Homo sapiens: one gene and its partner. The protein of the gene in region 2 purifies or fractionates together with the protein of the main gene of each other region. This does not show direct contact. Each region holds a gene or a part of one and is shown on either strand. Other genes may lie near its edges.

Region 1 (3,749 bases), on a different chromosome or scaffold from region 2:
GAAAGGGGTGCTGACGAAGATGGGGGCATTGTCGTTGATATCCAGGACCTGTACTGTCACCAAGCCAGAGACATTAGAGAGTGGGGGACGGCCACCATCCTGTGCTCGCACCCGTAGGGTGTACTCCTTGGTCGTCTCATAGTCAAGAGGGCTCACCACATCCAGAGCTCCAGTCTGGGCATCCAGATAAAACTGTCCCCGAGCATTGCCACTCATGATGCTATAGTGCACCACGGCATTGCTCCCCTTGTCTCGATCCGAGGCTGTGACTCGGAGTACTGGGGCCCCTGGAGTCACATCCTCCCTCACCTGGACCACATAGCGCTTCTCACTAAACTGGGGGGCATTATCATTGTCATCCTCCACAGAAAGGAAAACAGCGGCTGTGGTACTCCGAGGACCCGGGTCCCGACCCTGGTCACTTGCCTCTACCGTCAGCTGGTAGGATTCCACCTCTTCCCGATCCACAGGGCCACGGGTTCGGATCACCCCAGAGCGAGGGTCGATCTCAAAGACTTCAGAGGGGCTGCCCCCAGACCCCTCCAGCAGGCGGTACAGAATATTGGCATTGGGAGGGGCATCACCATCCGTGGCCCTGACAGTGAGCACCTCATAGCCAACCTCCAGGTTCTCCCTGAGGCTCTCCTTGTACTCCTGCTGCTCGAACACAGGGTCATGGTCATTGGTGTCAGTAACCAAGATGGTGAGTGTAGCCAGGGCACTTCGTCGGGGCATGCCGTGGTCCTGCGCCGTGACCCTGAAGACGTGGGTGCTCTTGGTCTCACGATCCAGCTCCTCGGCTGTGGTTACTGCACCAGTGACTGGGTCCAGGGAGAAGAACTGGTTGGAGCGGCTATCAAAGAGGGCATCCATGGTGTACTCCAGTCGACCTGCCTCACCCTCGTCCGGGTCGATGGCCCTCAGGGATGCAACAGGGGTGCCTGCTGGCTGGTTCTCCGGCACTGTGGCCTGGTAGCTGGGGGGCTGGAACTGGGGGGCTGTATTTACATTCCTTTTCCGACGCCCACCCAGGGACTCTTCTGGTGACCTTTCCCCTGCCCTGAGCCCGGGGGCCTGTGCCAGCTTGCAGGACTGGCATCTGAGCCGTGGAGCCTTTAAGCACGGGTGCTCCTCGGGCAGTGTGAGCTTGCCCTGTGGGGAAAGGTGGCCTCCAATGCCCAGGAGGCGACAGCTCCAGGGGCAGCCTTCAGGAGCTGGTGGTAGGGGAATATGGGCCTCGGATTCTGGACACCAAACCCTCAGGCCATCGTGGTGGGGTACCAGGTGGCCAGTCAGCTCAGTGCCCGCATCCCTGCAGCGGCTGGTGTAGAGCCAGAGGTTCGACGCTGAGGATGGACAGAGCCAGCCCATGGGGGCGCAGGCCCCCGAAGAGCCTCGTCCCCTGGACCCCAAGGAACGACAGGGCCCCACTTGGTCTCCCAATAGTGGCGGCGGCAGCAGCAGCAGCAACAGCAGCAGCAGCGGCGGCGGCGGCGTTGGGAGGGGGACGCCGGTGGCCGGGCTCCGCATCTCTCCCAGCTCCCGGCCGGCGGCCGGGTCAACGGCGGCGGCGGCTCCTCCTCCGGCTCCTGCCGGCCCCGCCGCGCCTCATGCCCGGGCCAGGGCGCCAGTCCCCGGGGGCCTCCCGTGCGCCCCGCGGGGCCTGCGTCTGGATGGCTCGGCGGGACCCCGCGCTGCACCCTCCGACGAGCCCGGGCTCCCACTGCCCCCTGAGCCAGACCCGCTCCCGGGTCACCCTGAGCACCGCGGGCTGCCGCCGCGCCTCCACCTGCGCTCCGGGCACTCACCACCTGCGCCCGGGGGCCCCGCGGCGCCCCTGGCCTTGCCGGGCCCCGGGTTCCGGAGCCGGGGTGCCCCCTCCGCCCCTATGGGATCGCCCACCTGCGCCCGCGTAGCCGTGCGCCCCGACCCCGGCCCGGCCCCGGCGGCCCCCGACGGTCCCGCGCCGCCCGCTCGCGCCCCGCGTCCCCGCCGCGGCTGCTGCCTGTCGCCGCGGCCCCGGGCCCAGCCCCGCGCTCCCTCGCCTCCCCGGCGGGCGGGCGAGCTCTGCAGAGTCGCGGCGGCGGCTCATTACCATAGACCTGCTCGCGCCGCGGCCGCCTTAAAGCGGCAACGCCGGCCGCGCTGGAGGAGGTGGGCCCCACCCAGAGCACTCCTCCGCCCAAAGCGCCAGGATTCCCTCCAGCAGGACCCTCCATCCCAATTTCCCCAGGCCGGCCTCGCCAGATGCCCGGTGCGAATTAGCGATCGGAAGCCACACAGCCGATGATAATCATGGTGGAAGTACCCTAAGTATGCCTAGAGGTTTCCAAAACATTTTAAGGGCTCTCAGAGGCCAAGTTTCCAGTTCATTCCAGTCATAAAAGCCCTCGTTGCTGTCCCCTCCCATAGGTCAGACAGAGTTAAAAGGGCCCTGAGCAACACAACAAAGCCTCCAAAATCCCAGAGAAGCACCCACAATGAGTCACCGGGCCCACTCGCTCCCTACCGTCCCCTCCACCCCACCAGCGAGGCTGTTGTCTGACCAGCATGCCCCTTGGGGTCGGGCTGTTGGAAGAATGACCCCAGCCTCATGTTGGACACCACTTGGGCTTTTCCAGGGAAGTAAATTAGAAGGGTCAGAGTGGGTGGAAGCCAGGTGGTGCAAACACACTGTCACCAGATTCGGAGGCCGGCTGCGGTGGAGCCTAGCTTTAACACAGGCTTCCTGGATTCTAGACAAGGGGCTTACACTGCCCCCTGAGGTCCTGTCTAGAGAGGCGGCCTCTCATCCCCTCCTGCCTCCCTGTCCATGTCCTGCGGCTACCCCCTCCTTCCGCCACAGTTTTGTGACCAGCGAGGAGGCCTACCTGGTACCCGGGCTCCTGACCCTCTCCAAGGCAGCTTCATTTGAGAGGGTGTGCAGGATTCCAGGGGTTCTCCAAGAGGACCAGACATGAAGCTGGACCACACGGAGAGCCAGGCAGGAGCCGTGCAGGCGACCCAGAAAAGGCTTCCCTACATCCTGGAGCAGCCAGGGGCCCAGTCAGGTAGTCCCTGGGGGGATGCCCTGGCCTGGGGGGATGCCTGGGCCTGGGTCCCAGCCTCCAACACCACAGCTATGTGACCTTGCTCAAATTCTGTGCCTCAATGTCCCTTTTTGTAAAATGAGGGGATTGAATAAGGTGAATGGTTCTCAAATGTTTATTTAGCAGTAGAATTCTTTTCTTCAAAAGAAATCTGAAGTGGAAGGCCAGAATATAGAACAGATGAGTAGTGCTGCTGGGTTGAAGTGAGGGGGTCAGGGCCTTGCCCCTCTCCACCACTCCCCCAACCAAGAAATCCCTGGGCTGCTCTGTGCAACTTGAGGGTCTGGAGGAACCCATCTGAAAAGCACTGGATCAGGTGCTCCCTTCTACCACTGCCCCCGGTCACAGTGGTGCCACTCTCACTGGGTCACAGCAGAGGATCCCCCAGCCCCAGGCCCAAGGAGTGTCTGTGTGACCACACAGTGAGGCCAAGGATGAGAAATCAGCTTTTCTCTTTTCCCCTGGGGAAACAGGAAAGGAGATGGGCCTTGGGTACAGCAAGAAAGATTAGGGTTAGACTGTGCTCCTGGCAGGATGGATAGAAGTAGGAGGAGGACCCATGGCTCAAGGAAATGCCCTCCCCTTTGACCAAACAGGAGCTTTCTTCCTCTGAGCAAGGCCAAGGGCAGCTCTGGAGATGGAGGCGTGGGTTACACGCCT
Region 2 (3,749 bases):
TAAACATATTTTGGGTGAGATTCCTTCCTTGGGCCTGAGACCCCTGATGAAGATATTTTCAAAAATAACAGCAAAAAAACTTAATTAAACAGATTGTTAAAGGAGCACAAAAGAAACAAAGAAAAAACTGATAGATTTAACTACAAAAAATTCACAATGTCTACGTGAAAATGTATTAACCCACAAAGAAAACCCCACATGAATTAACAAATGTAGTAAGGGTTCTCTTACATGCGGCCAAATATCATTCCTAACTATAATACACACTCTCACATCTGTAATCCCAGCATTTTGGGAGGCTGATGCACAACATAAGTGGTAGAAAAAGGGCTTAATAGCTTTAATTTATAATGAAATTAAATTTATTTATTGTGATAGTCACTAGTAGTTGCTTCTTCGTATTATTTTCTCCCTTATTAAAATAATTCAAATTATATTCAAGGTAGCAATGTGTCCAGCTACTAATATTACATTCACTAATGACCCAATCTATCCAAGAAGATGTAACTAGAAGTCCTTGGATGGGGCTTCTAGAGATACTCTTTAAAGGGGACAAACTTAGCAGGCATAGGTTTTTGTCCTTTTTTCCTGCCTAGAAAATAACTGTTGAAGGTAGGACAAGCATCATGTGACTACTAGGCAACAAACATGAAGATTAAAGCCAAATACAAAAGATGATGGACAGAAAGAAAAGAAAACTTGTCCCTGAATTCTTTTTCAAGCTGCATTCCCAGTCAGGACTGCCCACCTCAGCATTTCTGATTTACAGGAGAAAAAGAAAACCCCATGTGAATTAACCACTGCAGTAAGGGCTCTCTTACATGCAGGCAAATATAATTCCTTACTGTAATATACACCCCCACATCTGTAATCCCAGCATTTTGGGAGGCTGATGCAGGAGGATTGCTTGAGCCCAGCAGTTTGAGACCAGCCCAGGCAACATGGCAAGACCCTGTTTCTATTAAAAAAAAAAAAAGAAAATAGAAAAAATTAGCCAGACATGGTGGTGTGCACCTGTGGTCCCAGCTACTCGGGAGGCTGAGGCAGGAGGATCGCTTGAGCCTGGGAGGTCAAGGCGGCAGTGAGCCACGATCATACCACTGCACTCCAGCCTTGGTGACAGAATGAGAAACTTTCTTCTTCCTCTTTTTTTTTTTTTTTTTTTTTGAGATGGAGTCTTGTTCTGTCACCCAGGCTGGAGTGCAGTGGCACAATCTCAGCTCACTGCAACCTCCGCCTCCTGGGTTCAAGTGATTCTTCTGCCTCAGCCTCCCAAGTAGCTGGGACTATAGGTGCATGCCACCATGCCCAGCTTATTTTTGTATTTTTAGTAGAGACGGGGTTTCACCATATTGGCCAGGCTGGTCTCGAACTCCTGACCTCGTGATCCACCTGCCTCGGCCTCCCAAAGTGCTGGGATTACAGGTGTGAGCCACCGCATCCGGCCCAGAATAGAAATGAAAGAAAAGAAAGAAAAGGAAGGAAGGGAAAGGAAGGGAAAGGGAAGGGAAAAGGAAGGAAGCGAGGGAGGGAGGGAGGCAGGGAGGGAGGAAGGGAGGAAGGGAGGAAGGAAGGAGAGAGATAGAAAGAAAAAAGGTAAATATCTTGGAAAGGCTCTGCACAATATTATTGTAGAAAACTCCTTATGCATGTTCCCGTAATTTATTTTAATGAGGAAAATAAGAGAGGGAATGCTAAAATAACTATATATGACTTTACGTACTTTACAGAGTCACCACAGTGGACTGTATTCTGAAACACTGAACCCAGGAAACATACCTAGGATGACATACAGACCAAGACAACTGAAGATTCTATTGATATTTTATGACATTTATTATATTCTTGTAAACAGAAGAAAACTCATATTCTTATGGTCAAAAGATTCCAACTTTTACATCCTGAAGATAAGATTCTATCAATTTACTGAGGTAATGAAGAGAATGAATTTTGGAAACAGGCAGATCTGGATTAGATCCCTACTCCATCTCTGTTGGTACTCCCTACAGCTGTTCACAAATAGGCCAGCCTCCTTCCTGATACATGAGCAGATTGGCATTTTCTATCCCTTTTCAAATTTAGGCACAGCCATATAACTTGCTTTGGTTAATGAAATGTGAGTACAACTAATACGTGTCACCTTAGGGCAGAAGCATTAAAAGTGGTATAGGATACACCACCTTCCTTGCTCCTTCCTTGATGAAAGTGGGATGAATTATCTAGATAGTTCCTCCATCAGGTTGGGTGCCTGAGTGACTGCAAATCAGCAGAGGTCCTCAGGGTAATCCCACTGGACAAACAGCATGAGAGATGCATAAACTTTTGTCATCTTATCTGATTTCAACTTCAGAGTTTTAAAGTTGTAGCCTATCCTAGTAAATCCTTTTTGCTGCATGTGAAAAGTGACAGTTTTCAAGGAACCATTACTACCAACTGCAGATATTGGGTAGAGCCAAAACATTCAGGTTATAGCAGGAGGTTTTGCCACATCTATCTTTAAAAATTCCTATGATAAAACTTCGTAAGTAGAAAAGGTTCTGTAATAAAAAAGAACCCCAAGCTAAAGGCTTCCAAGGTATGAAAAGTCCTGGTAAATACTGTAGTAGCTAATGAAAGCCACTATCTTTTAGTTCAGACTTTCTTTTGCCAATCTACAGGCAAAAATTAGAGAGGAAAAGAGGGGCAAGAGGATTAACTCTTTTTGAGTGCCTGTGTTGACAACTGTGGCGATTACTCATTATTATCTCAGTTCTTGAAATACTATGAGGTAACATTTTGTATATTACAGATAAGAACACAAGTACAAAAAATTATGTGGTCTGCCCACTTGCAAAAAGTGATGATAATAAGTTGTAATTCAAAACTACTTCAAAATCCACATTGTGCTACTTTCATGTAGCCATGCTTTCAGGTGCTTGAAAAACTGCTCTAGAATAAAGAGTGAGGATGAGACAACAGATTAACAAAGCTATTCTGTGCCAAGTTCTTTATTTTGAGGAACCCTGCCTCTATAGAATGAAGCCAAGTGAAAATTTACTCTTCTCTGGCAGGCACAGTAGCTCAGACCTGTAATTCCAACATTTTGGCAGGCGAAGGCAGGTGGATCGCTTAAATCCCCTAGGAGTTCAAGACCAATCTGGGCAACTTGAGACTCCCCCCGCCTCTCCCATCTCTACAAAAAATACAAAAATTAGCTGGGCATGGTGGTATGCACCTGTAGTCCCAGCTACTTGGGAGGCTGAGGTGGGAGGATCACTTAAACCCAGGAGGCAGAAGTTGCAGTGAATCAAGATCATGCCACTGCACTCCAGCCTGGGTGACAGAGCAAGACTCTGTTGGAAAAGAAAAAGAAAAAAGAAAAAGAAAAGTGAAGGAAAGTGAAGCAAAGAAAAGAGGAAAAAGAAAAAGAAAATTTACTATTCTCCCCCACCATCTTAAGGTTTTATTAGAATGCCCCTGATAAAAGGTTATTGGGAAAAAGTGTATGTCATCACTTTCCTCCCCAGGAGGGAAAGAAAACACCTATGTTTAGGGCAGACTGATACTGCATTTCACAAAGATGCTAATTTATTATCGCAACTAGATGCTAATTTTTTTCTCATAACTAGATTTGAAAAGGCTGGATGTGGGGTTCCCCCACTAAGAAAACAGCTTTCACTATAAATTGTGGCTGGAAGCAATTTTTGCCATCTGTAATAATAAGCAACTTGAGATGTTTTATTATGTATTTCTTCTGCTCACTCTCCCAC

What was found. The genes of interacting proteins can lie anywhere in the genome.
Region 1: the proteins of DTWD2 (region 2) and CELSR2 purify together in Homo sapiens (affinity purification with mass spectrometry; 3 studies listed by BioGRID and IntAct, with this or other methods). This does not show direct contact.

What each region holds. Positions count from the first base shown.
Region 1 is NC_000001.11:109,247,861-109,251,609, reverse strand, and holds the start of CELSR2 (cadherin EGF LAG seven-pass G-type receptor 2 precursor), read right to left. Parts: upstream 2,072-3,749; 5' UTR 1,531-2,071; coding exon 1-1,530. UniProt on the Homo sapiens protein: Receptor that may have an important role in cell/cell signaling during nervous system formation.
Region 2 is NC_000005.10:118,841,808-118,845,556, forward strand, and holds part of DTWD2 (tRNA-uridine aminocarboxypropyltransferase 2), read right to left. Parts: intron 1-3,749.